4 linked regions of the Homo sapiens genome follow. The protein of the gene in region 2 interacts with the protein of the main gene of each other region in a biochemical or structural test. Each region holds a gene or a part of one and is shown on either strand. Other genes may lie near its edges. The genes, in order: UBE2L3, HACE1, SNTG2 and CASR.

What was found.
Region 1: the proteins of HACE1 (region 2) and UBE2L3 form a complex in vitro, tested with the Homo sapiens proteins (8 studies listed by BioGRID, with this or other methods).
Region 3: the proteins of HACE1 (region 2) and SNTG2 form a complex in vitro, tested with the Homo sapiens proteins (one study listed by BioGRID).
Region 4: the proteins of HACE1 (region 2) and CASR form a complex in vitro, tested with the Homo sapiens proteins (one study listed by BioGRID).

The regions. Positions count from the first base shown.
Region 1 is NC_000022.11:21,619,692-21,624,546, forward strand, and holds the end of UBE2L3 (ubiquitin-conjugating enzyme E2 L3), read left to right. Parts: intron 1-1,823; coding exon 1,824-1,978; 3' UTR 1,979-4,343; downstream 4,344-4,855. UniProt on the Homo sapiens protein: Ubiquitin-conjugating enzyme E2 that specifically acts with HECT-type and RBR family E3 ubiquitin-protein ligases.
Region 2 is NC_000006.12:104,779,917-104,786,950, reverse strand, and holds part of HACE1 (E3 ubiquitin-protein ligase HACE1), read left to right. Parts: intron 1-1,631; coding exon 1,632-1,966; intron 1,967-2,465; coding exon 2,466-2,534; intron 2,535-2,777; coding exon 2,778-2,865; intron 2,866-6,493; exon of another isoform or gene 6,494-6,598; intron 6,599-7,034. UniProt on the Homo sapiens protein: E3 ubiquitin-protein ligase involved in Golgi membrane fusion and regulation of small GTPases. Acts as a regulator of Golgi membrane dynamics during the cell cycle: recruited to Golgi membrane by Rab proteins and regulates postmitotic Golgi membrane fusion.
Region 3 is NC_000002.12:1,261,849-1,268,882, forward strand, and holds part of SNTG2 (gamma-2-syntrophin), read left to right. Parts: intron 1-46; exon of another isoform or gene 47-173; intron 174-487; exon of another isoform or gene 488-570; intron 571-5,516; coding exon 5,517-5,723; intron 5,724-6,223; coding exon of another isoform or gene 6,224-6,247; exon of another isoform or gene 6,248-7,034. UniProt on the Homo sapiens protein: Adapter protein that binds to and probably organizes the subcellular localization of a variety of proteins. May link various receptors to the actin cytoskeleton and the dystrophin glycoprotein complex.
Region 4 is NC_000003.12:122,186,668-122,193,701, forward strand, and holds part of CASR (extracellular calcium-sensing receptor isoform 2 precursor), read left to right. Parts: intron 1-7,034. UniProt on the Homo sapiens protein: G-protein-coupled receptor that senses changes in the extracellular concentration of calcium ions and plays a key role in maintaining calcium homeostasis.

The sequences.
Region 1 (4,855 bases), on a different chromosome or scaffold from region 2:
TTTTATTTATTTACTTTTGAGACAGAGTCTCGCTCTGTTGCCCAAGCTAGAGTGCAGTGGCACGATCTCGGCTCACTGCAACTGCCGTCTCCCGGGTTCAAGCGATTCTCCTGCCTCAGCCTCCTGAGTAGCTGGGACTCTAGGCATGGGCCACCATGCCTGGCTAATTTTTGTATTTTTAGTAGAGACGGGGTTTCACCATGTTGCCCAGGCTGGTCTTGAGCTCCTGACCTCAGGTGATCTGCCTGGCTAGCATTTGCATTTTAATCCATTTCTTGTAATGCTGAATGAACAATATGAGCCCTTAATAAAGGAATTGACCAGGTGCAGTGGCTTCATGCCTGTCATCCTAGCACTTTTGGGAGGATGAGGCGGTAGGATCACTCAAGCCCAGGAGTTTGAGACCAGCCTGGGCAACATAGTGAGACCCCATCTCTACAAAAAACTAGGCCAGGAGCAGTGGCTAACACCCGTAATCCCAACTACTCTCAAGGCCAAGGTGGGAGGATTGTTTGAGCCCAGGAGATAAGACTGCAGTGAGCTGTGATTGCACCACTGTACTCTAGCCTAGGTTAAAAAAAAAAATTAGCTGGACGTGATGGCATGTGCTTGTAGTCTCAGCTACTCAGGAAGCTGAGGCAGGAGGATCATTTACACCCAGGAGTTTGAGGGTACCGTGCAGTAAAGTATGATTGAGCCACTGCACTCCAGTCTGAGTGACAGCAAGACTGTCTAAAAAAAATAAGAAGGAATTTGTGGCATCAGCAGTTCGGAGAAGAGGGGCACTGTTTTACAGTGGGAAGGAACATTCTGAGGGTGCTGGTCCTGACAGGGTCAGGGGGCAACTGTGGCAAAGTATGTGAGGAGGTGTGGGTAGCAGCTGCTTCTGATTCCCCACTATCCTTCCACCCTGGGGCACGTCTGGGCTACGGCACCTAGGGGGAGTACTGTGGCACCCATCAGAGCCATCAGCGTGACATCTGCCTGTGGTCTTGACAATGTGATGCGATGGCGGTTGTCAGCTTCCCATTGGCTGGCCCCAGTGACCCTTTCTAGAGGGTTCAGAAACTCCTAAGGGTCTTCCAGAGTTGGGTCATTGCGCATTGACAAGTGCAGCGCCATCACATACCCTTCTCTCTAGTGCCCACTCAGTCACCTTAACCGAAACTTCCCTGAGCCGAGCATGGTGCTGGGTGCTGGGCTGATGCAGGGAAGTTCTACCCGGTCCTGCCCTGAAGAAAGTGACCCTGTGTGCATGCATGAGAGTGAGCAGTCAGTTCAATACTAGGCCTCCTATCTCCAGAGTACACAAGAGGACTGGATTAGCCGGGCATGGTGGTGCACGACTGTAGTCCTGGCTACTTGGGGGACTGAGGCTGGAGGATTGCTTGAGGTCAACCCAGGAGGTTGAGGCTGCAGTGAGCCAAGATGGTGCCACTGCACTGCAGCCTAGGTGACAGAGTGAGACCCTGTCCCTCCTCCCCAACCCCCCGCCAAGAAAAAAGGGCTGGGAGTGACTGAGGGCTAAGACCTCCCCAGGTGTTAGGTCAGGAAGGCTTCCTGGAGGCGGAAGCACATCACTGTGAACAATTATCCACTGTAGTGTTAGCTATTTGTTGTCCATCAGTGTCTTCTAATCACAGAGGAAAGATGAGTTTTCTGGCAGTCAGAATTTTGGATAAATAGGAGGCAGCTTTGGCTTAAAAGCACATTAGCTGTAAATCAGTTGTAAAGCCAGAGTTTTGTTCCCGGATTAGCTGCCTCTTGCCTGTGCCATTTCTGAGACTGTGTTAACCCCCCATGCCTTGTCCTTCTCTTGGCAGTAATCCAGTCCCTCATAGCACTGGTGAATGACCCCCAGCCTGAGCACCCGCTTCGGGCTGACCTAGCTGAAGAATACTCTAAGGACCGTAAAAAATTCTGTAAGAATGCTGAAGAGTTTACAAAGAAATATGGGGAAAAGCGACCTGTGGACTAAAATCTGCCACGATTGGTTCCAGCAAGTGTGAGCAGAGACCCCGTGCAGTGCATTCAGACACCCCGCAAAGCAGGACTCTGTGGAAATTGACACGTGCCACCGCCTGGCGTTCGCTTGTGGCAGTTACTAACTTTCTACAGTTTTCTTAATCAAAAGTGGTCTAGGTAACCTGTAAAGAAAGGATTAAAAATTTAAGATGTTCTAGTTCTGCTCTCTTTGTTTTAAAAATCACTGCTTCAATCTACTTCAAAAGAATGGTGTTTCTTTTCTTGTCCAATTTTATCCAAAATCTTCAAGTTACATTTAACCCATAAGGTTTAAAAAAAAGGAAAAAAAACGGTTGTGGTTCCCTTTCTTCCCTACCCTTGCCACTCCCACTTTCTGGCACCGAGTTTATTTTTCACTTACTTACTTCCCCAGACCCCGGGCTCGCCTCCACAAAGGAGAAGAGACTGCCCTGGCGGTCCTGGTGGCTTTTCTTAGCATGTGTGGCACTGTTGCCCAGTGTGGGAGTTGGTTTAAATTCTCCTGACTCCAGTTTATAACATCCTTTTAAAAAATTTAAAAACAAACAGCCACACCCCTCCTCCAGTCCTTCTCCTCAGTTCTTGTGTGAAACTCCAGCTGATGTTACCACAGTAACATCAGTTAATTGGGCAAGCCCTGATGTCAGTGTGTGTAACTGACCTCTGGCCTGGCCTGCACAGAGAAGCCCTATAATCACAGGTCTGTGGTGGCCCCGAAATGGGGGGCCTGCTAGTCAGGAGGATGCTGTGCACACTGTGTGTGATGAATCTCGCCAGAAAGGCTCCTGAGGTCCCAGGTTGGCACTTCTCCCTGCAGCCATTGTAGAAGATCTGCTGGTCCTTGCAGGCAAAGCTACAGCCAGAATGTCCGTTTGAAACTCCTAGCTCATCTGTCACCGAGCTTCATCCGAATGTGCCACGGAGCTTGCTCTCCACTTCCTCCGTGCAGTGGCCCTGCCACAGCCCTCCCTCGGCACACTTTGACCCTTTGTAGGATTGGAATTAGCAGGACTCGGCTATTTAAAGCACCAGTCTGGGGTCGCCTGGGCCCCTGCTGACCCCCTCCTCCAGAGCAGCCAGCCCAGCCCGGGAACAAGACGGACTTCCTCTCCCTTCGGACTCACAGCCTTTGCAGAGTCAAGCTCCACTTGAAGCTCACTCAGTAATATCCTTTCAATGTGTTTTATATTGTTTTGACTGCCTTTTTTTGTAGAAATAAAAATTGACCTTAGAATTTATCGTCAGATAAACTTGTAAAGATTTGAATATTAATGTCTTTTCAAGGCAAATGGGATTGTCCCCGCACTAGTAGAGAATCCATGTCGCTCTGACACCCCAAGGAAGCCGACGATCCAAATGCCGTGTGTCACCAACCCCGCTTCTGCCACTGGCGGCTTCCCTTCTTGGCTCTTGGGGGGGACTAGATCCTGTGGAGAAGATGACTTAAACTTTGCTTTTTGTTTTAATTTTAATTCTATAACTTGAGATCTTTCCGGGGCCTACAGGCGTGTAAGACAGCTTGGTCTGGTCTGTGCAGAAGTGGGGAGTGATGGGCAGGTTCGGCAGCCTAACATTGTTCAGGCGCATGGCCCCTGCGGTGTGTACACGAACTCGGCTTCTTTTGTCCTAGGTACGCCAAGGGCAGGTTTCTGGAGACTCCCTTGTGCCCGGGATGGCAAGGGCACCGGGCTGGCGTTTCCACATCTGTCTTCATTAGCAGAAAAGTGATGATGGATTTTATTTCACTCACACTCCAGTTTGTAATAAAATGCCAAATTCTGTCAGCTATCCAAACAAGCCACCATTTGTTCTTGTTGCTTCTCTGGATCCAGAAATGTTGCCATTCTTGGAAACTGTCCCATTGCTTCGTATTTCTGCCAACGTAGCTCTGCCTGCCTGTCAACCCCTCACTGCACTCTGCTCATCACGGGAGGATACCTGTGTGCCGGCAGCCCCTCAGGGACTCTCAGCCCTGGCACTGGCACCCCAGGGTTGGCCCCGTCAGCAGAGGCTTGGCTTTCGAGCCAGTGGGTGTCTCTCCTTTGGGCCTGGGCGGCTTGCTCCTGCCAGCCATGCCTTCAGGGTAGGCTCTGAGCAAGCTGGCGAACAGCCCTGGCTGCTCCAAAACCAAAAAGCTGGGTCCTCTGGAGGAGGGGCGAGCTGTGGAGCAGCCACCCACTGCTGCCCCAAGCTCACTCAGGAATTCACACCCGCCTGGTTTCTTGAAGTGTGCTGGGTCCTTCCCTCTGCTCCCTACTCCCCACCACGGCAGAGAATAGGCTTTCTAAGATGCTGCGATCCCGTTCTGCTGCCCGTAATAAAAATGCTCTCAGACACTGGTTAGTCGTGTGGGTTTCTTCCTTCCTGGGAGCGGGCAGTGCCAGGGGCCTATGCTCTTGGAGATGGGAGGGCTGGCTGGGGCCCAGGTCCTGGGGCTTCTGATCTCTCTCCCCATTCCCAGCCTCTCCAAAAGAGGTACATAGAAGTGTTCCTGCCTCCCTAGAGGGAAGGAGATGAGGTATAATCAGCAAGAAAGCCGGAGACTTCAGACAGTCGGGGCCTGCAGAGGGCGCTCTTGGGCGTCTCGTTGAGGGGACAGGGACTAAAGTGTGGGTGCATCACTTACATGCGTGGGTCATCCTGGAGCCTCCTGGGAGTGTTAACAATCCATGTTTAGAAGAGGCAAACCTGCGGTCCCAAGAGGTCACAGAATTGATAAGGGTGTGCCTGTGGGTGGAGCTGGGCCATGTCCATGAATGGTGCCAGCCAGAAACACTCTGAGTCCCCAGTACAGCCCACTGCCAGGGTGCTGCGGCAGTGGTGCTAACTCAGCAAGGGCTCAGCCAGACCC
Region 2 (7,034 bases):
AACATTTTCTAAGGTTCCAAATATGGTTGTATAATCTCCTTCCATGGCGGTCTTTAAAAGAAAGATTATTTCTTTCCTTGAAATATTTTAAAGGTGAGTCTTTCTGTAGCACATGGTGTAGTTTGTAGCATTCTGTAATCATGTCAGATTCAAAAAGTGAGATAAACTTTTATATTTATTTGCAGAAGGATAGCTAATCATTCTCAATAAGAATATTTAAAATAGTGTAGGATGAAGGGATTGTTTAACCACTGTACCACTTATAAACTATTAATCTTTATTTGGGATTAAAAATATCCTAGCAGGTTTTTTTTTTTGTTTGTTTGTTTGTTTTTTTTTTTTTTTTGGAGACAGTATCTCACTCTTTCACCCAGGCTGGAGTATAGTGACATGATCACAGCTCACTGTAGCCTTGACTTCCGAGACTCAAGCAATCCTCCCCCTTCAACCTCCTCAGTAACTGGGACTACAAGTGCATGCCTGTGTACCCAGCTAGAATAATAATAGGAAATAGTTTATTCTCTCCTCATCTTTTTTTTTTTTAATAGAAAGGTGTTAATCTTTACTTGGAATTAAGAATTTGCTACTCAGTATTTTTTTTTTTTTTTTTGAGATGGAGTCTCGCCCTGTCACCCAGGCTGGAGTGCAGTGGTGTGATCTTAGCTCACTGCAACCTCTGCCTCCTGGGTTCAAGTGATCGTCCTGCCTCAGCCTCCCGAGTAGCTGGAATTATAGGTGTGTGCCACCATGTCTGGCTAATTTTTTGTATTTTTAGTAGAGATGGGATTTCAATTCACCATGTTGGCCAGGCTGATCTCGAATTCCTGACCTCAAGTGATCTACCCACCTCGGCCTCCCAAAGTGCTGGGATTACAGGCGTGAGCCACCATCTCCGGCCTGCTAGTCAGTATTTTAATAGAAGTTTGGTAATTGTATCTCTTGTTTTAAAAAAACACTAATTATTAGAAATGGATTGTGTCTGTAAGTATATGTATATACATAAATATGCCACATTTTGTAATTTCTTGTCAAAAATTATCCAAATTCTAGGAATTATATGTAATGAAAGGAGCACAGTAAAAAAGCTGTTCATTAGGTTCTTTAGGGATTCTCATTTTTTAATTGAAAAAAGACATTTGTTTAATTGAAAGTTGTTGACATTGATCATATTAATACAGAAAATGTTGAGTGATTATACTTAGGGGTTCTCATTTTTTAACTGAAAAAATCTTATTTGTTTAATTGAAAGTGGTTGACATTGATCATATTAATACAGTAAATGTTAAGGGTGATTATATATAGTAGTAATGTGTGCTTTTAAAACTAAACATTTGAAAATTAAAAGAAGAAAGATTGTGAATTTTTTGTTAGATTTAGTTTTTCCTTTTTATTACAAGGAATACATACATACAAATTAAATTATTGCCATAAATGAAGAAATTGTCATTTATGTAGCATTTGTATAATTTTATTACTTACCTTTAGGCATTACTATCACGTTAACTTGGGAAGATAGAAATGACTAGAGTAAATTTTCTCTTCTATAATATTTGTCTAGTTGTGTTTTGTTTTTTTTTTTTTAATCCTGTAGTTTAAGAATGATGTTTAAAAAACACTTTTGTTTCTCTCAGCCTCTGGAATTGCTTTGGCACTCGTTAGATGAATGGCTAGTTTTAATAGCCACAGAATTGATGAAAAACAAAAGAGACTCAACAGAGATCACTTCTATTTTACTGAAACAAAAAGGCCAAGATCAAGATGCTGCTTCCATTCCTCCATTTGAACCTCCAGGACCTGGGAGCTATGAAAATCTGTCCACTGGCACAAGGGAATCTAAACCAGATGCTCTTGCAGGGAGACAGGAAGCCAGTGCAGATTGTCAGGATGTTATTTCTATGACAGCTAACCGGCTAAGTGCTGTCATTCAAGCTTTTTACATGTGCTGTTCTTGTCAGATGCCTCCGGGGTAAGAAAGTTTTGGCTTATTATTTTTTTTTTCTCTGATAGATGATGAAAAGCAGTGATACTTTTGTAATTTCAAAAACAACAAATAATAATTTGTTGATTTAAAGTTTTCTCCTTGTTTTAAGATACTCATACTAATCTAGATCTAGTAGGGAATATTTAAATATTAAGCAGTATATATTATTACTTTGTAGAATGGTGAATGTCACCTTGTATAGGATCTCTTAATTATGTATTTGAAATGTGTAGAGCAGAAATGCACCAAATTTCAAGATTTTTAAAAAGTCACTTGTTGATATCGTCTGCTGATGAGAAGTTAGAATCATTTTACAAATTGGCTAGGCATACTTCAGTTTCCTAAACTTACAAAGAAGATTCAAAACCAAATTCTTTTTTTTTTGGTTTAGAAGCCAGTCCAGTTCAGTATATATTTATCAAGTTCGCTATATTATATCACAAACTTTTGCCTGTGTATTCTGATTGATGTTTTCCCCCCACAGAATGACTTCACCTCGTTTCATTGAATTTGTCTGCAAACATGATGAAGTTTTAAAATGCTTTGTTAATAGGTAAGCTTTCTGGGTTTGTGGAGTACCCTGCTAGCCTTTCCTCTCTTTACTTACAGTTTCATCTAAACAGAAAAAATACTATTTCTCGTACTATTCAAAATATGCTCAATAACAAATGAAACTTTAATAGATATGGATTATTATGTGTTTTTCTTCTGTTTCAGTGTCAGTGTATCTGAATTTGCATTTCACTTAATGCTACTCATTCTTCCTGTCCATTTAAACAAAATATTTTTCTTTTAGAAATCCCAAAATTATATTTGACCACTTTCACTTTCTCCTTGAATGTCCTGAGTTGATGTCAAGATTCATGCATATCATAAAAGCACAGGTAGAAATTTTTCTTCATCTTTTTATTCTATCTAATGAAATTAATTTCTAAAATTCTAATACTGTTTAGTGGAATAATTATTACACTTCAGACATTCTGTTGTAAGAGGAATGATTGCATGTTACTTTAATATGAGGAGTAAGTTTTCTTCAAGAAATATGTACTGAGTGCCTACTATGTACAGAGGTCTGTACAAAAACAACAGAACACATTGCCACATTTCCTGAAAGGAGCTTAATGAAACTCTTTAGTTCTATAAGGCTGATTGTCCTTTTGAAAAGGATTTTAGCCCCCAAATACATTTGGGAAATTACATAACATATGCCCTTTGGAAATTTATAAATCACATTGGCAGCATGTTAAAAGGCTTTGAGAAGCCCTTCAGTAAAAATAGTGATTTAGCTTTGTTAATCCTCCTAACTTATTTGACCTGACCACCTTTCCCCTACCAGATGTGTACCTGTTCATTCCATACATCTCATGTTACATGAAGCTAGCTGGAGGAAAGCTTGTTTTGCTCCTTACCAGCTATGTGAACTTTGGGCACGTTTCCTAATATCCTTGAGCCCTTGGTTTCTTCATCTACAAAATGGAGATAATGACAGCAGCCTCATAGAACTATTGTCCAGAATAAATTGTCAGGAATGACTGTGATATATGCTCAATAAATGGTAGTTGTTTTGGAGATAGAAAACTTACTTCCCTTCTCTAAGAGGATTCTAATTCAGTCTGGCTGGGGAGATAATAAACATATGTATAAAATAGTAACTACAACATAACCTGGATCTTTAGGAGTTTAAGGGAGGAAGAGCTGGCTCTGGCATCTGTAGTCAGGGGAAATTTCAGAGGAGGCAGATTTTAAGTTACCTTGAGAAAGCTTGAAAAAATATGCAACATTTTGATGGGAGTAAACAAAGAGGGAGAACTTTCTAGCCACCATGTGGGCTGGAGCATGTAGACCGAAAAGTATGTAAAACTGCAGTATTGCAGCAGAAATTTTGTGTTGATAGGAGCAAGATAGAGTTATGGAAAGGTAGATTGAGGTCATCCAATGATGAGCCTTGATTTCCAGATTGAAGAATTTTCTTTGTTTGCTAGGCTGTTAGGAGCCACTGATACCCTTGCTTTAGGAGAATGGCATAATTCTGGCAAAGTTTTAGAAAATAATTTGCCAGATATGTAGGACAGACTGTAGGCAATGGTTTGGTTAGTAGTTGTAAGATAATAAATAGGATAAGTGGTTTTTAATGTCTTTAGGGACACTTGTCCTTTCAGAAGTTAAGCTATGAACTAATTTTTATAAAATTATACATAACTATATAGAGGGATCTTTTGACATCTGTTTAATAATGATAATGTGAAAGAGAAGGCAGTAATAATGACTTACATTTACTGATTTTAGGTCAGGTACTATGTATTTGCTTCCATGAATGATTTTATTTTCTTAACCATTGTATAAGATGGCTACTCTTTTTTTTGTAAGCTGAAGTGGTTAAGTAACTTGTTTAAGTCATTCTGCTACTAAATGGGAGAACCAGAATTTAAAAGTCTGTCTGGTTCTCAAGTTCAATTTCTTTCTTTATTTTATTTATTTATTTTTTTTGACACAGGGTTTTACCTGTCACTCAGGCTGGAGTATAGTTGATCTGAGCTCACTGCAACGTCTGCCTCCTGGGCTGAAGCGATCCTCCCAGCTCAGTCTTTCAAGTAGCTGGGACTACAGGTGCATACCACCACACCTGGCTAATTTTTGTGTTTTTTGTAGAGACGGGATTTTGCCATGCTGCGCAGACTGGCCTTGAACTCCTGAGCTCAAGTGATCCACCTGCCTTAGCCTCCCAAAGTGTTGGGATTATGGGCATGAGCCACCACACCCGGACAAGTTCAATTTCTTAACCTACACTGTATGATACTGTTCTGGGGCAAATGAGATAATAGGTGAAAGAAGATTTTAGTTTTTGAGAGATAGTCTGCTGTTTTTAATATAGGTTGGTGCAAAAGTAATTGCGGTTTTTGGCAGTTACTTTTAATTGCCAAATTAAAATTGTCAAATTAAAATAGCAAAAACCGCAATTACTTTTGCACCAACCTAATACTGTCTCTGCTTTTTACTTTCTATTCCTTTTTCCCTTCCTGGACAATTTAGTCAAAAAACATCTGTATTAGGTATCCACTTTGTTGACCCAGAGAGGGAGGTGTTTGTTGCCTGACTAGGGTGAGGAGGGTGTCTACATGTGTAGTGGTGGCCTAGTGTGGGGTTTTGGAGTTTGGATGTGATTAAGAAGTGTGTCTGTGTAGAAGAGGGTCCCAGTGTGAGTCATGTGGGTTAGAGTGGCATAAGGAGGATGTCCATGTTGGCGGTGGTTGCAGCTGATCAGTGCTGTCTGATGGAGCCTCAGTGGGATGCAGGGGCCATGTCAGTGATTGGAGATTGGTTACATACCAAGGGAGTGGGGTTGCAGGTTGATCAAATAAGCAAGTATGAGAGTCTAACTTCTCGTTGTTGGAGAAAGGAGTTACAAAATGGAGGAAATTAGAAGGAACCTTGTGTTGAATTGGAGTTACCAGTTTGAATTTAGTTTTAAATTTACATAGATACATGTAGCAAACCTGGCACCCAGCTCTTGGTCTCTCAGTGCCATTCTCAATGAACCAGGGCTCCTTGGAGAAATGGCTAATTCCAGGGCTAGATCAGGGAAAGTATAAAATAAGCCTGCAACATCTTATTGTGTAAGAAAGTAAGGAAGTGTTCAAAGACTGATGGGGTTATGTTAACATGACTCGGAAGACAGCTTGAATGGACTCCCACTACCAAATTTGGAAGAATTTGAGCATCAAAATAAATAATGATGGCAACATAAACAGGAATCTATGAGTCTGTACTGAAAAAAGTTAATGAATAAATGGAAAGTCTGATGAAGGGTAGGATGATTACACAGTCTCAGATTATCTCCCAGCAGAATAATTGCAAAGAGAAAAAGGGTGCCTTACAGTAGAGAAGCTTAGCAGTGATCAAAGCAGACATAGCAGTGTGCCAGCTGATAGGATGCTCTGAGGACATCATGGCATCACTTCTGTGGTATTCTTGCCAAGGATACACACCTTAAATCTAATCAGGAGGAATCATCAGACTAAATACAGTTGAGGGACATTCTACAAAATTAACTGACCTGCAGTCAGTTTTAAAGACCTGCAGTCTTTAAAACTATCAAGGTTATGAAAATTAAGAAAACATTGAAGAAATGTACCAGAGTGAAGGAGACAGGACAGGACAATTAAAGGCAGTTCATGAATCATTTTGCAATAAGAGGACATTATTAGAAAATTGGCAAGACTTGAAATGGGATCTGATGTAGTAGTGTTATCAGAGTTAATTTCTGATTTTGATGGTTGTTATCTAGTTATAGAGGAAAATTCCCTTGTTTGTAGGAAATAAATGCCTAAGTGTTTATAGGGGACTGGACATTATATTGGCAAGTTGCTCTCACATTAGAGGAAAAAAAAATACTTTGTACTCTACTGTACTTAGAAGTTTTCTGTAACTTGGAGATTGTCCTCCTCTAGAAAGTTAAAAAGAACAACTACCTCTGCTAAGGGATTGACTTCTTCTTCTGTTGGTGGTTTTCAGGTGGCCAGTAGTTAAAGGGAGAAACATTTTGTATTGCTGTACAAATGCTATTAAGAGGAGCCTCTATAATCAGTCCTGTTTTGTGAATTATTTATGGAAATGCAGGTACTCTAGAAAGTTTACATACAAAAATGTACCATTTGGCTGTGTAGGTGTTTGTATGTGTGTGTGTGTGTTTGATCTGAGCTTTTGAAGGTAGCAGTTTGTACCTTTTAATGTTCCACTTGAATTACTTGAAAAGGTTCCATTTGTTTTTATTTCTTGGTTCACATTTCATAGATAAATGATATAGTTTAATATCTTATAATGGGCAGTAAGTTTTCTTTTAAATAGTTATTGACAATAATTTTAACATTGCTGTGAATGATAATAAGAACAGTATCTATTTATTGAGCATTCTAGGTATTGAGTATTAGAGCATTAGTATAAATGCTTTTAATGTATTTTTCTCTTTGGTAAAATGGGGACAAAAGTTCCTTTTTCTCATAGTGTTGTGAGGATTGTATGTGGTAATGCATTGTAAAGTGCTTCAAAAAGTACC
Region 3 (7,034 bases), on a different chromosome or scaffold from region 2:
GACTTTCCAGAAGCCAAGCAGAGACAGGGATGGGGCCCAGACTCACGTGGCTGCAAAGCTCATCCCGAATCCCGCTCTATTCCACGTGCTAGAAGCAGTGGTGTTCCGGGAGCCTGTCGCGAGTGGCCGTTAAGAGTTCTAGAACGTGTTCTCCACGGATCTTCGGGGTAGTCCTGTTTGGATAATATCAACACTGAGAGGAAGAATTCCTAAATGATTTTCCTAAAGCCATGTCAGGACAAAACTGCACCAGAGTTAAAGGCGAAGAAGGCAAGAAGACCTTATTCAAGTCTATTATGATAGGAGAGAGAGAGAGATTCAGAGATTCAACTCCACTGAAACAAAGGATGAGAGGGTTTCTACAAGTTGGGATGGGAAGGAGATTAGGGCCATCATTGTCTGTTAATTGGCCTCCTGCAAAGAAACAGAGAGCTTCCCCCATCTTCATGACAGGAGGTGGTTGCACAGCTTAGAGCCAAGCACCCACCAAGGCTGGGCTCCATCCTTCCACAGGGACAGGAGATGACGCCATCTTGCCAGTGATCACATTTTGAAGGGACAGCTCCCAGCTCCTTGAGAAAGACAGTCCTGGGTTGTACAGCCAGCAAGAGACTTCTAGAAAGATTCAGGTATCAAATGGCAGAGAAAGAACATACAATAATACATTTTCTAAAGCAAATGCTCTAAAGATAGGGAGTTCCAGGTCCCAGAGGTGGGAAGAAGCCGGGTCAAGTCTCAGTCCAGACGAGGAAACCCAAAGGCTCAGTCCAGACGAGGAAACCCAAAGGCTCAGTCCAGACGTAGTAACCGGAAGGCTCAGTCCAGACGAGGCAACCGGAAGGCTCCGTCCAGACGAGGCAACCGGAAGGCTCCGTCCAGACGAGGCAACCGGAAGGCTCCGTGCAGACGAGGCAACCCGAAGGCTCCGTGCAGACGAGGTAACCGGAAGGCTCGGTCCAGACGACGAAACCCGAAGGCTCGGTCCAGACGAGGAAACCCGATGGCCTAGCCAGCCGCTGACTGACTGTTGACGGCAAGCCGCTGACCTTGAACTTCAGTGCTCAGGGTTTCCAGTCGTATCAACACACTGCGATCCACAAGGTCTGAGTGATTGTTTTTAAAGGAGCTACAGGAACTATCTGGGGAAATGAGCTATATATGAATAATTAATTTTCCTTTTGTAGAACTTACAACACATTCTTTGTGAGGCTAAACAGTGGAAAAACAATCCCTTGCTTGATCAAGCAGTCTCACTCCTCAGAATTGAATCTAAAGAAGAGTCCATTACAACACTGAGTTCAGAGGAATCAAAGAGCTATATGTATGAGAATGTTTAAGGATATTCCTTAAATTAATGATATTTGAAGAATAATCAAAAGACCATTGAGAAATATTTTAAAATCTTACAACATATTTTAAGTAATTCTACTATAAATTTATACAGTTATATGTACAAATTCACATTGCATGAAAGAGAATATTAATTATTGTCCTATTATTAAGGTTATATTAATAATTATTGACATATTTTTAAAAATCAGATGACAAAACATAGTAATAAGTTTATCTTTTAAATTCCCTTTATTGTTGCTATAATTGTTTCATAATAAATATAAATAGAAAAAATATGTAATTTTAGAATACAACCCTTTTTGTTTTTTTCAGGAAAGGGAACATAATAAGATGATGTCTTGCAGTCCTAGGTGGGGGGTGGGCTTTCTTCAGTCGTGGGGGTGGCTGGAAATGCTGTTCTGGATATTGCCAGAGCTGACCCTGCCAGGAAGCCAGGTAGCTGCAAAGCAGACATCAAATCGACATGTACGGCCTGGCTCAGCATTGCCTTAGGACGTGTGTCTTTATGAAAGCACGTAGTGAACTCATGTGAATCCGGGATGTGAGCCCTGCATGCTGGCCACTCTGTCATGTGAAGTTATGACAACATTTTTATCACGATTCCATTTCACAGCTCAAAAGTGGAGGCTCTGAGAGAGTGAATTGCTCAAGATCAAACAGCTAATACTGGGCAAAGAAAGGCCTCAAATTTTATCTGACTCCAAAACCTGGTGTTCTTCTATTATAATACACAGCTGCCCAAATATAGCAAGTGATAGGAAAGAAACACAATTGACCTTTGAACAATATGGGCTTGAACTGCGTGGGCTCATTTGTATGCCAATTGTTTTCTATAAGTATGTTGGAAAATTTTTTGAAAACAATTTAACAATTGTAAAAACCTCTTAAGACAAACTGTGTAGCTTAAAAATATCAAAACATTAAGAAAAAGTTAGAGATGTCGTGAATTCATACAATATATGTAGATACTAGTCTATTTCATCATTTACTCCTGTAAAATATAAATCAATCAATTTGGCACCATCTGCAGTGGAGAGGAATATAGACAAAGGTAAAGATGCAGCGTTCAATCATTCCTGCCCATGGTTAACTGGAGCACATAGTGTGACATGGGTTTCTGAGTAAAATGTCTTAATCATCCCTGTGGAAGCAATTTCTCTCTCCAGTAAATTGCAGAGCATGGTAACGAGTGATCTCTCAGAGTTCTTGTGTACCTTCCCTCCTTCGTGTTGAGTCCAGTAACGTAAACCTTGAATAACACCCCGGGACCCACACGAAGTGCCACAAGGGATGTTGCAAGTGCCCCAAGAAGCGGGAATATCACAGCATTGCCAAAAAGCTGAATTGTTTGCTGTGCACCACAGATTGAGGTCTGCAGCGTGGTTGCCACCATTTCAGACCATTCATCTCATAAACAGATGATGTAAACTTATGGTGTCAATAAATACAGTGCAGTGCTCTAAGTATATCTTCTCTTCCCTGTGATTTTCTCAATAACATTCTCTATTCTCTAGCTTACTTTCTTAATTCATTTATTTATTTAGAGATAGGATCTTGCTGTGTCATCCAGGCTGGTCTTAAATTCCTGGGCTCCAGTGATGCCCCTGCCTCAGCCTCCCAATTAGTTGTGATTACAGGTGTAAGCCACTGTGCCTGAATTCACTTATTCTATTCTAAGAATGTAGTATATTATACGTATAACATACAGAATATGTGTTAATTGACTGTTCATGTTATTAGTAAAGCTTCTGATCAACAATAGACTACTAGTAGTTAAGTTTTAGGGGAGTCAAAAGTTATGCATGAATCTTCAACTGCGTGAGAGTTGGCGCCCCTAACCCCTGGGTTGTTCAAGGCCCAACTATAATGAGCCATTCAATGGGGGATGTGCGTTCCCACATAAATATCTTCCAAAAGTTTTTCTTTATCAGTTTTGACATTTAAGTTCAGTGGATAAAGAGATACTTTCTGCACCATAAGGTCAATGATGAACATGTTGTTCTTGGTTTGTGACGTGTAACCCTATAGGTTCCAGGTATCCCAGCTGAAGGAGACGATCCAGAGGGCCCCAGAATTAAAGTGCAGTTTCTGTACTCAAGGCTCATTTAGGGTTAGCAACGTATGCACACTACACACATTCACGTACACACACATTCATGTTCACATACATTTCCACACATACACATGTTCATGTGTGCACACACATTCTCATGTGCACACATACACACACACATGTTCTCACGTGCACACACCACAAGGCATTTGATGTCTGGATGATGCACAGGGATAAATGTGCAATGCTCTCCATGATCAGAGGGTCATCCTGCAGAGCCATCTGCGGGGCCAGGAGAGCCAGGGCATCCCCCCGGAGAGTCCAGAAGGCCCACCTGAGACACACCAGTCGTAGCTTTTACCTCAAACCTGTGCCTAGAGTGCATGTGTCAGCATATTTCAAGTAAAACTATTTGGCCAACTGCTGAGTTCATGTGGATTTTGGGACTGGACCTTGAGCGTAAGTGTGAGTGGGGACTGTCCAGCTTGGCTGGTTGGCACAAGTGAATGGAGATATCTCAGAATCATGATGGGAAGACCCAGCAGGTGGGCAGCTCCCCTTCCTTTCTGCTGCCATATGCAGGGCTGTGGGTGAACACCACATTCTCATTCAGGACTTTGGAAACCCCAGCCCAGGTGTCTCCCCTTGTTTCCCTTCACTGGGGAGAGACTGGTGCAGCAAAATTGATGTTGGGGTGCAGCGTCCCAGGAAGGTGTCTGGTGGGGGCTCTTCAGGGTGGATCTGTGGACCAGTAAATGAATGGGTGAGCTGAGAACTGAGGTGGGTCCAGAGAGAGACAGACAGAGACAGAGAGAAGGATAGAGAGAGACAGAGAAACAGACATAAAATAGAGAAACAGAATGACAGAAATGGAGAGAGAGAAAGAGACACAAAGAGAGACAGAGACATAGAAATGGAGACAGAGAGAGAGAGAGAGACAGACAGAGACAGAGAGGTGCCAGCCAGGTATTGAGTGCGCGTTCACCATGCACCTCCATGCTGTTGACCTAGTAATTGTGACAACTGGGACCCCCAGTCTTTCTCTTCTGCCCTTGATAAAATGAATCCCGAAGTGGGGTGCAACCTTGCAGATGGGGGAAAGAAGTGGGGAGCTCCCCAGGCTGCTCCATGCAGCACAGGCTGGCAGCATCCGAATCGCCGAGTGATTAATAGACGTGCTGTAAGTAACTTACATCTCTGGGTTAAACGATTAACCAGAAATGGAACAACATCATTACATCATTCCCTTTGTCAGGCCTTTGGGTTGGCAGAATGAGCTCCTGGGTGGCCGGGTGCCTTGTCATGCTTCAGAGGCGTTTTGGGCACTCGGTCCTTTATCTCAGGACAATGAACCCGCAAGGAGAGGAAGAGCCAGTAATTCTATAGAGACTCGGAGGCGCAGGGGGCACGCTTAGTTAGAGTGGTGGTGGTATTTTCAGTGTTTTCTGGTTTTATGATAAACACAAGCATCAATGTCTCAAGACTTTCATCTTTATCTTTTTTTTTTTTTTCTTGAGACAGGGTTTCCCTCTGTCACCCAGGCTGGAGTGCATTGGTGGTGTGATCTTGGCTTTCTGTAACCTCGGGCTTCTGGGCTCAAGCCGTTCTACTACCTCAGCCTCCCAAATAGCTAGAACTACAAGCGTGTGCTGCCACACCTGGCTAATTTGTTGTATTTTATTTATTCATTTATTTTTGTGAAGACAAGGTCTTGCCATGTTGCCCAGGCTGGTCTCAGACTCCTGGGCTCAAGCAATCCACCCACCTTAGTCTCCCAAAGTGCTGGGATTACAGGCGTGAGCCACCACACCCAGCTTCATCTTTCTCTTCACCGTAAAACAGGAAAGTGTGTGGTGACCAGTATTTTAAGGGAAAGGCACTTACAGAGAATTAAGCATTTGACAAAATTTATTTACAGATATTTGTCTGTGGACCACTTCCGCACCAGCTGTGCATGAGAGGGCTCATTGCTCTGAATTTGCCTCCTTGTCTGCACCCAGGAGACCGTTTCCCAGATCACGCAAACGCTGCCTTCTCCCCACACCAGGGCCCTCAGCATGGGAATGACCTTCCAGCGCTGCACGTTTCCAATCCATGCTCTGTTTTTCAGTTCTGGCTCACAGAGGACTGCTGGTTGCAAGCAAACTTGTATCTGGGTCTTCAAGATTTTGACTTTGAGGACCAGAGGCCCTATTGCTTCAGCATCGTGGCCGGCCATGGGAAGAGCCATGTTTTCAACGTGGAGCTTGGCAGCGAGCTGGCCATGTGGGAGAAGTCCTTCCAAAGAGCCACGTTCATGGAAGTTCAGAGAACCGGGGTAAGTGAACAACTCACACTCTTCTCACCTACACCTGCTCGGGTGTCTGAGACATAGCATTGGGGAATATGTAGCAGTTTATCGGGGGAAAAGAGGAATCTTCAGAAGGTGAGAATCTTTCACCGGAGCTACTGTGTGGAAATGATCGTTCGCACGGAGTCATGCGCTCCGTGGATAAATATGAGCTGTAGTGGAAGGGAAGGGGAGGAGAGGATTTTGTGTCTGTGTCTACATTGAATGTGAGGAACGGGCTGCATCGCTTTCCAGGAAGGGACTCCACCGATGTGGCGCTCAAGTTCCTGAGAAGTGATGACACTTCTAGCCTGTGCTCCGGGAGACAGAACACCTAGCTTACAAATGAGTATAATGTGTCGTGCAGTTACTTGGATGTTTGTAATATTTTAAGGCACTTTAATGGTTCTTCCTCTCAAACTTGATGGTCCGAAGGAGAATATAAAACAGCTTGTGTGTCTGAATTGCTTTTCTCTTCCTGACAACAGCAAATACATCACTCACAAATTTGAATGTATACCATGTGAAGGGATGAGGAAGAATGCATTATAATCCTCCTTATCCTAAATAGCGGGATGATCCTTCAGGGAGGATGTGTGCTGCAGGAATGAAGAGTGACAGGAGATAAATGAGGCAGCGCATCCCAGAGGAGCTCTGACTTCACACCAAAGTCCAGGGCTCCCGCCTGGCTGAGCGCGGAGAATGCTGAGTGTGAACTTAGTAACTAAAGATGGCTACTTCATTTAAATATACATATATACCTTGAATGTGAAACTATTCTGTGTTATTTATCTTTCATTCACGTTGTCAAAATGTATCCAGGCTCCTTGGCATGCCATCACAGAGCACGAAGCTTCCCTGTAACTAATGCACACTGAGATCTCTTAGTCCACAGAATGAAGTCACACCCAGATCTTCATAGAAACTGATGCCAATGTTTATTCTCATTTATCCCAGGCTGCTGTGATTTTCCCCTCAAATTGGGCACCCTAAATTGGAATTATGGTTGATTCCTGATGCTTAAAGTAACCTTTATATTTGAAGCATCCAATTCATTAACCATTATAGAACATTACATGCTGGAAAGAAAATTACTAAACATAGGATCCTTCATCTCAGGGACTTACTCAAATGTATAGTGGCATTTAGCCACTTAGAAACCATCAGCACTAAAGGTTCAAGTCGTTAAAAGGCAAAGTGAAAGAGCGTTTCTGGGACAAGGTGACCTTTCTGCTTGTTTTCTTTAGATGATAGCAGTAATCATTTTGCTTTCAACATAAATACCGGAGAAGTAGAGAG
Region 4 (7,034 bases), on a different chromosome or scaffold from region 2:
GAAAGAAACGAAGTTCTTTGAGGGTGTATACAGACTGAACTGTGAGACCAGGGAAGCCTTTCTCAAGGAGATCTCCCTTGAGCCAAGATTCAAAGATGGAGAGGAAGGTTGAGGATATATTTGTTGTTTACGTAGGACCAGAATGTATCCACTAGGAATGGTGTTTGGCTGCTAGTCATTAAGAAGACTAACTGCCATGTGACATTTGCTGTACTACATGAGCACATGTGCCAACTTGGCATTTTTGGCACTTTGGGAAAGAATGCTTTGTTATCACAGTATCAGTTGCATTGTCTTCAGTTGGTCATGGTTTGCCATTGCTGTATTCTTGCTTTATAATTAAATGTTTCAATTAACTTTATGCTTATCCACTTATTTTATTGTGTACAATAAAATGTGTGCATTGCAGTTCAAATGTGAATCATCCATATTCCCATTAATAAGGTAAATATATATATAACCCTGATACCAAATGTGGTTTATACACTGACTGTTCAATGTTATCACTAAATAGATTCTTTAGGTGAAAATAGGTGTGGCAGGTGGGCTGTAATATCTTCCTTCCATCCCTAGCCACTGCTCTAATTGGGAGGATGCCAGAATTTTTCAATTATTCTAAAGCTGCATGATCCTTTTCAAAGATTCATATATAGCTCTTTAGTAAAGAAAAAAAATCACCAATTGCACTGAAGCAACATATTTAACATTCAAACAAATATTTTTATTCATTCGACAGTGTTTACAGTAAACCTTGTATGTGCTCAGAGCTGTGCTAGACAGTATAATTAAAACTGATTACTAGGACAGAGTCCCAACATTTAAGGAGTTCATAGAAGTCTGAGAGGGAGTCATGCTCATCCATGTGCAGGTAGTATTGTGTTCATTACAATTAAAGCATAATCAGGGTACGTTCATGTATAAGGGAAGGGAGTGGTCAATTCTACCAAAGGAGGAAGGGTCAGGGAAAGGTTCTTGGAGGAGGTAACGCTTGAGTTGAATCTTGAAAGATGAGGAGTGACACCAGGTAGACAAAAGAAGAAGGTATAATGGGAGAGAGATTCATGTGCAAAAACAAGCAATTAACAACAACTAAACCAGAGGCATGAAACATCATGTCAAGTTCTAGGACCTGCAAGTGGTTCAAGGAGCTGAAGCATAAGGAGCCAAGAGGTAGGGAGGCTAGCAAAGTGGCTAAAGTATGCATGATGGGGTCACAGAAACAAAGATTTGAGTCGTGGTTCTGCCACTTTCTAGCTGTGGGACCTCAGTTAAGTAATTTAGCCACAGTAATTAATGGTAATAAAGGTAATACTTTCCTCATAGGATTGCTGCAAAGATTCAGATAAGATATGCACAGATTATGTACTCAGGAATTGTTGGCTATTCATTATTTATTCTAGGGCAAAGGAAGCTGCTGGAGGGTTTTACATAGAGGAGTGACTCGTGAGCATTTTTGCAATCACTCTGGCTGCATGTGGATGCTGAGTTGAAGGGGGCTCATTTGGAACAAAGTAAATATTTAGAGACATTATAACCATTTAGATAATGGTAATGATGGCCTGAACCATGGCGGTCATGGCAGCAGCCATGGAGAAAACTAGCTAAATGCTTGAGATATCGTCAAAGTAGACTCCACCACAGAACTAAGTTACTCATTAGATGTGGTCAGTGAGGGAGAGGATTTGAAGAGGTGAAGCCTGAGATTCTGGTCTGTTATCCTTTGACTCTGTCATTCAAGTGATCTTGGGATAGAAAAGAAGAAGTGAGTATCAACCAGGACTGGGGATCAGGAATCTGGGAAGTGCTTGTATACAGAGAACTTCATGATCGGTACCAAAAAAAATGCTATCTCTGATTCAGAAGAGCCCTTGACCATTTCTGTGTCTGAACATAAAATAGGATCAGTTAATCCATACCAAATATAATATCCATCTTCTCTCTCTCTCTTTTTCTCTCTCTCTATTTCTGGGAGGCTTTCAGTTCAAAGTGGGTGGACATTAGACTTCACCTATTTGTCATTGCCTTGAAGTGACAGATGTACCCTCACTCCATGCCTGGTACTGTTGGTTCAACTCTTGCCTGACACCAGCCTGATTCACTTTTTTCTCCTTTTTCTCATGTCTTCTCATATACAATAAGCACTAACTGAGGTGTCCACATGGACTTTATTAAAGTCCATGAGAATTAGAGGATTCAGGTAGTTCCTATTTCATCATGCAATGCAGTCTTGGTAACCACAGTATCCATTCATAAGGCAGGAAACAATACAGACATGTGTGATAGTGTTTGTTGAAAAGCTGCCGAGAGCTTTATTACTGTTTCCACCAAAGGTGGATACTAGGAAGTGCTGATTAAGGGTGTGCTTTTGGATTCAGTTGCTCAAACAACTGTATTATTACTCAAAGCCACAGAAATGAACATTATAATTAGGCAGAGCCAAATGAGTGAGATGGTCAAATATGAAATGAGGAAAACAAGATCAGCCTCTGCCGTGGACAGTCTAGTTTGGTGGAAGGTGGGCTTTCTATCTCTGACCTTCAGCATGACATTAACCTAGCTGAGCCTCAGTTTTTAGTGGTGGACCTTCCTTTGAGATCTGTGAAGCTAAGGTAATGTCTCCTTCACAGGGCGGTTGTGAAGTTTAAATGAGTTAAATGTGCTAAACACAATGTGTGGCGTATGGTGGGTGCTTAACTAGCTGATATCCTTTGGCTCAGTTAATCCCCAGGGTCTTTCCTCACATTGAAAAAGCAGGAAGCATGCAGATTTCTTGGGTTAAGTAACCTGAATTAATTTGTTTTAATGTGTTTTTCATCTATGATTGATTTTTTTTCCCTGGGAACCAGGGTGGAAACCTGTTTTCCTCCACCCTCAGTGAATGCTTATCAGTGATGATGGGGGCAAAGGTAATATGATACCTGCAGAGAGGAAACTAATTTTAGCCATTCTTCCTTCAACAAGTCTGTCACACACATGCAAGTAAAATTACTAACAAATAGAAAAATTGAGTAATTTGACTTCTTCCTCCCATATTTTCTGTTGGTAGAGTTCCTATTAAGCATATTTTTTGTTTATCTTTTGTTTTTCATGTAGGTAGAAAGAAGCAGGCTCAAAGAAATTGCAGTTGTACCCCTCAATAATTGTTTGTCCTTAGGAACAAAGTTTTGCTTTTCTCCTCTTAACAGAAGTTGATGGTTGAAAGAATTATCATATCTTTCATATAGTTTTTCTAAATATTCTATAATTTGACATAAGCTTTTAGTTTAGTTTTGTTCACCAGTTGGGTCCCAACTGCATGTCAGATGTTGAGTTGGCACTGTGTACTCAGAGACGCCAGCTGTGGTGCCCAGATCTCCAGTCTGGTAGCCCTTGTGAGAGAGACTGGGTAGGAAGAGAAGTGGGGTGGAGGGTGCAAGCTGATCTTAAACAGCTGATGGTGGTGGGAGTGACACTCAGGCTGAGGCTCTCTACCACAGCTTCAGGCTTCCAGTCCATCCAATCATGCACTCCTTTGGGTCAGGATCTGGGTCTACTCATCCCAGTGCCCCAAGCCCCTGCCAGTTAGAGCCCTTATGTGCTAAGTGCTTGTCGATTAAGAGATTCGGGGAAAGGTAGTGAGGAGGCTAGGTGATCTTCTCTTTTCACACTCTTAAAAATGAAAATAGTCCAAGTAAAGTTTATACTCCATGCAATTATCAACCAATTTCCATTCATCCTCATCTTTTGAGAGGCAGTACACTGCAGTGGTAATAGCCTAGGGCCAGGAATTAGACTACCCGAGCTTGTATCTCAGTTTGACAGCTCACTAGCTTCGTGACCTTGGGCAGGTTGTCCAACCTCTCTATGCCCCATTTTCCTTATCTGTAAACTGCAGTTAATTAACACTACTTACCTCTTTGGTTGTTAAAAGACTTATATGAGCTAATACACGTTGTTAAAGCTCATCAAGCATAGACAGCGTGTCTTATTCAACACTGAAACTCCAGAATCCATCATAGTGCCTGGTACACTGGAGGAGCTGAATGAATCAATGAATGAATGAATGAATGAACAAATGAATGAGTGACTTAGTGAATGAACAAATCTCAGTATATAGACTGGTATAACAGTCAGCAATTGACAAAGCACCCTCTTAATATTAATTCATTTGATTCCCAGAACATGTCAGGAGATAAATAAGGCGGCTGAGCAGGGAAGGTATTATCTCCATTTTACAAATTAGGAAACCAGGGTACTGAAAGGTTGGCTTGCCAAAGAAAGTGCAACTATAAGTAAAAGATCTGGTTAACGTTGCTGATTCTACTTACTCCTAGCTCTCTGCTCTTCTCAAGATTCAGCTGCCTCTCCACCTTATACAGATTTCACAGAACTCAAAGGATGTCCACCAGCAAAAATGAACACACATAGCTTATTTAGCTTTCTGAAGAAATGAGTTTCTTACTGTAAATACACTCAGTCAAGTTAAAACTTAAAGTTGCAACTTGAAGTTTGGAATGTTTTTATGTTTTGGAGAGGGGAGCAGTGGATATTTTGTAAGAATGAGGAAGTTCTTTCTAAGTATAAAAGTAGCAGAGAATCATGAAGGAAAATATTGATAGATTTCATTACATAAACATTTAAAATACTTGGGTTTTTTTGTTTTTTGTTTCATTTTGTTTTTTTGAGATGGAGCCTCACTCTGCCACCCAGGCTGGAGTGCAACGGTGCGATCTTGGCTCACTGCAACTTCTGCCTTCCGGGTTCAAGCAATTCTCCTGCCTCAGCCTCCCAAGTAGCTGGGATTACAGGCGCCCACCACCATGCCTGGCTAATTTTTGTGTTTTTAGTAGAGACGGAGTTTTACCATGTTGCCCAGGCTGGTCATGAACTCCTGACCTCAGGTGATCCACCCACCTCAGCCTCCCAAAGTGCTGGGATTACAGGCATAAGCCACCATGCCTGGCCAACGTTTAAAATACTTGTATATAAAAGGTTATAATTAAATTAAAATGAAAATAAACTCAAAAAAATTTGCAACAAATAAGCCAAAAGGTTCAAATTTGTGAATATAAAGAACTCATAGAATTTAATAGGAAGAACATTAAGACCATGGTTTCAAAAAAGTAGCCAAAGGTTGTAATGGTTTTCAAATGAAGACAATCACATGGGTGGTGAAACATACAAATATTTTAACTTTTCTTCAATAAGGGAAACATTTTTACAATGATATACCAATTTCCTTATCAGGAACATTAAGATGTTGAAGATAATGCTAGTGGAGTGGGGCACAATGGAAACTGTCATAACAAATTACCTGGAAAACAATTGCCTTAAAACTGTTCACAGCCTTTGACCAAAGAATTTCATTTTGGGGATTGTATCATTAAGAAATTATCAGAAATATGGTTAAAGACTTATGCCCAATGATGTTCTTCACAGTGAGAATTTGAAACTGAAACACAAGAAAAAGCCTATGAATCCAATAATAAGGGAATGGTTAAATACAGTGTGGTGGATAGGAAGCAGCATAGGCTAGCAGCTAAAAGCATGATTTTGAGTCTTACCACCTGGATTCAAATTCTGGCTCTGTCATGTAACTGTCATGTAACTCTGCCCTGTAACTTTGGAACCTCTCCAGGCTCTACTTTTTTCATCTGTACAAAGGGGACGATAAGAGTATCTAACATATAGGGCTGTTATGTGGCTTAAATGGGTTCATACAGGTCTACACTTCCAAAATCTTCAAAGCTCTAAACAACTAAAGGTTTTATGTAACTTAAATAGCAACAAAACATCAGTGAACTGACACAGATCTACTTTATTCCATTTACTGTGACTGTATTTGGCAGATATAATCAATGTTAATCCCTTTCCACAGTTTTACCTTTCTTGCAGAATCTCCAAGATTCTCTTTATGAATTAATAACAATCTTACACATTTGAAAAAGACTAATTTTGAAGTCAAAGCTAACTAGAGAGCAGGTATATGTATTTTGAACTAATCTCTTGGCCAAGAAACTTTCCCAAATCTTCCATCCCAGGGCTCTCAAACTTTAAGGTGGGGAATATTCTTAATGCATAGATTACCAATGTCTATCCCCTAGAAAATCTGATTAAGCGGGTCTGGAGTGGGGGCCAAATGTATATAGTTCCTGCGAGCTCCCAGGCGATGATGGTAAGGCTGATCCATGGATCACCTCTTTTCTCTGCTCTTCTCACGATCCAGCTGCCTCTCCAGCTTATACAGATTTCATGGAACTCCTGTCCACCAGCAAAAATGAACACACATAGCTTATTTAGCTTTCTGAAGAAGTGAACTTCTTACTATAAATATGCTCAGTCAAGTTAAAATTTAAAGTTACAACTTGAAGTTTGGAAAGTTTTTAACTTTTGGAGAGGGGAGCAGGTAGCCTCACTCTAATCCACTCCTTCTTTAATTTTCATCACCCCTCACATTGTATCTTTTTATTTGAACCTTTTCATTTCTGAAAATCTTCGACCTTTTTTTTTCATATTATCATTCTCCTATTCTTTCATTTCTGGTTTTTTTTTTGTTTGTGTTTGTTTGTTTGTTTGTTTGTTTGTTTTTTGAGTCTCACTCACTCTGTCACCCAGTCTATAGTGCAGTGGGGCGATCTCAGCTCACTGCAACCTCCACCTCCTGGGTTCAAGCAATTCTCCTGCCTCAGCCTCCCAAGTAGCTGAGATTACAGGCATGCACCACCATGCCCAGCTGATTTTTGTATTTTTGATAGAGACAGGATTTCACCATGTTGGCCAGGCTGGTCTCAAACTCCTGACCTCAAGTGATCCATCTGTCTTAGCCTCCCAAAGTGCTGGGATTACAGGCATGAGCCACCATACCCGGCCCTATCCTCTCATTTCTATGGGGTGCTTTTATTCCTAGAAATAGTAATGTAATAAAATTATTTATCAGTTTCTGAGTACCTACCATGTGCCAGTAACACAGTTAAAAATGGAAAGTTTCTTGGCCAAGAGATTAGTTCAAAATACATATACCTGCTCTCTAGTTAGCTTTGACTTCAAAATTAGTC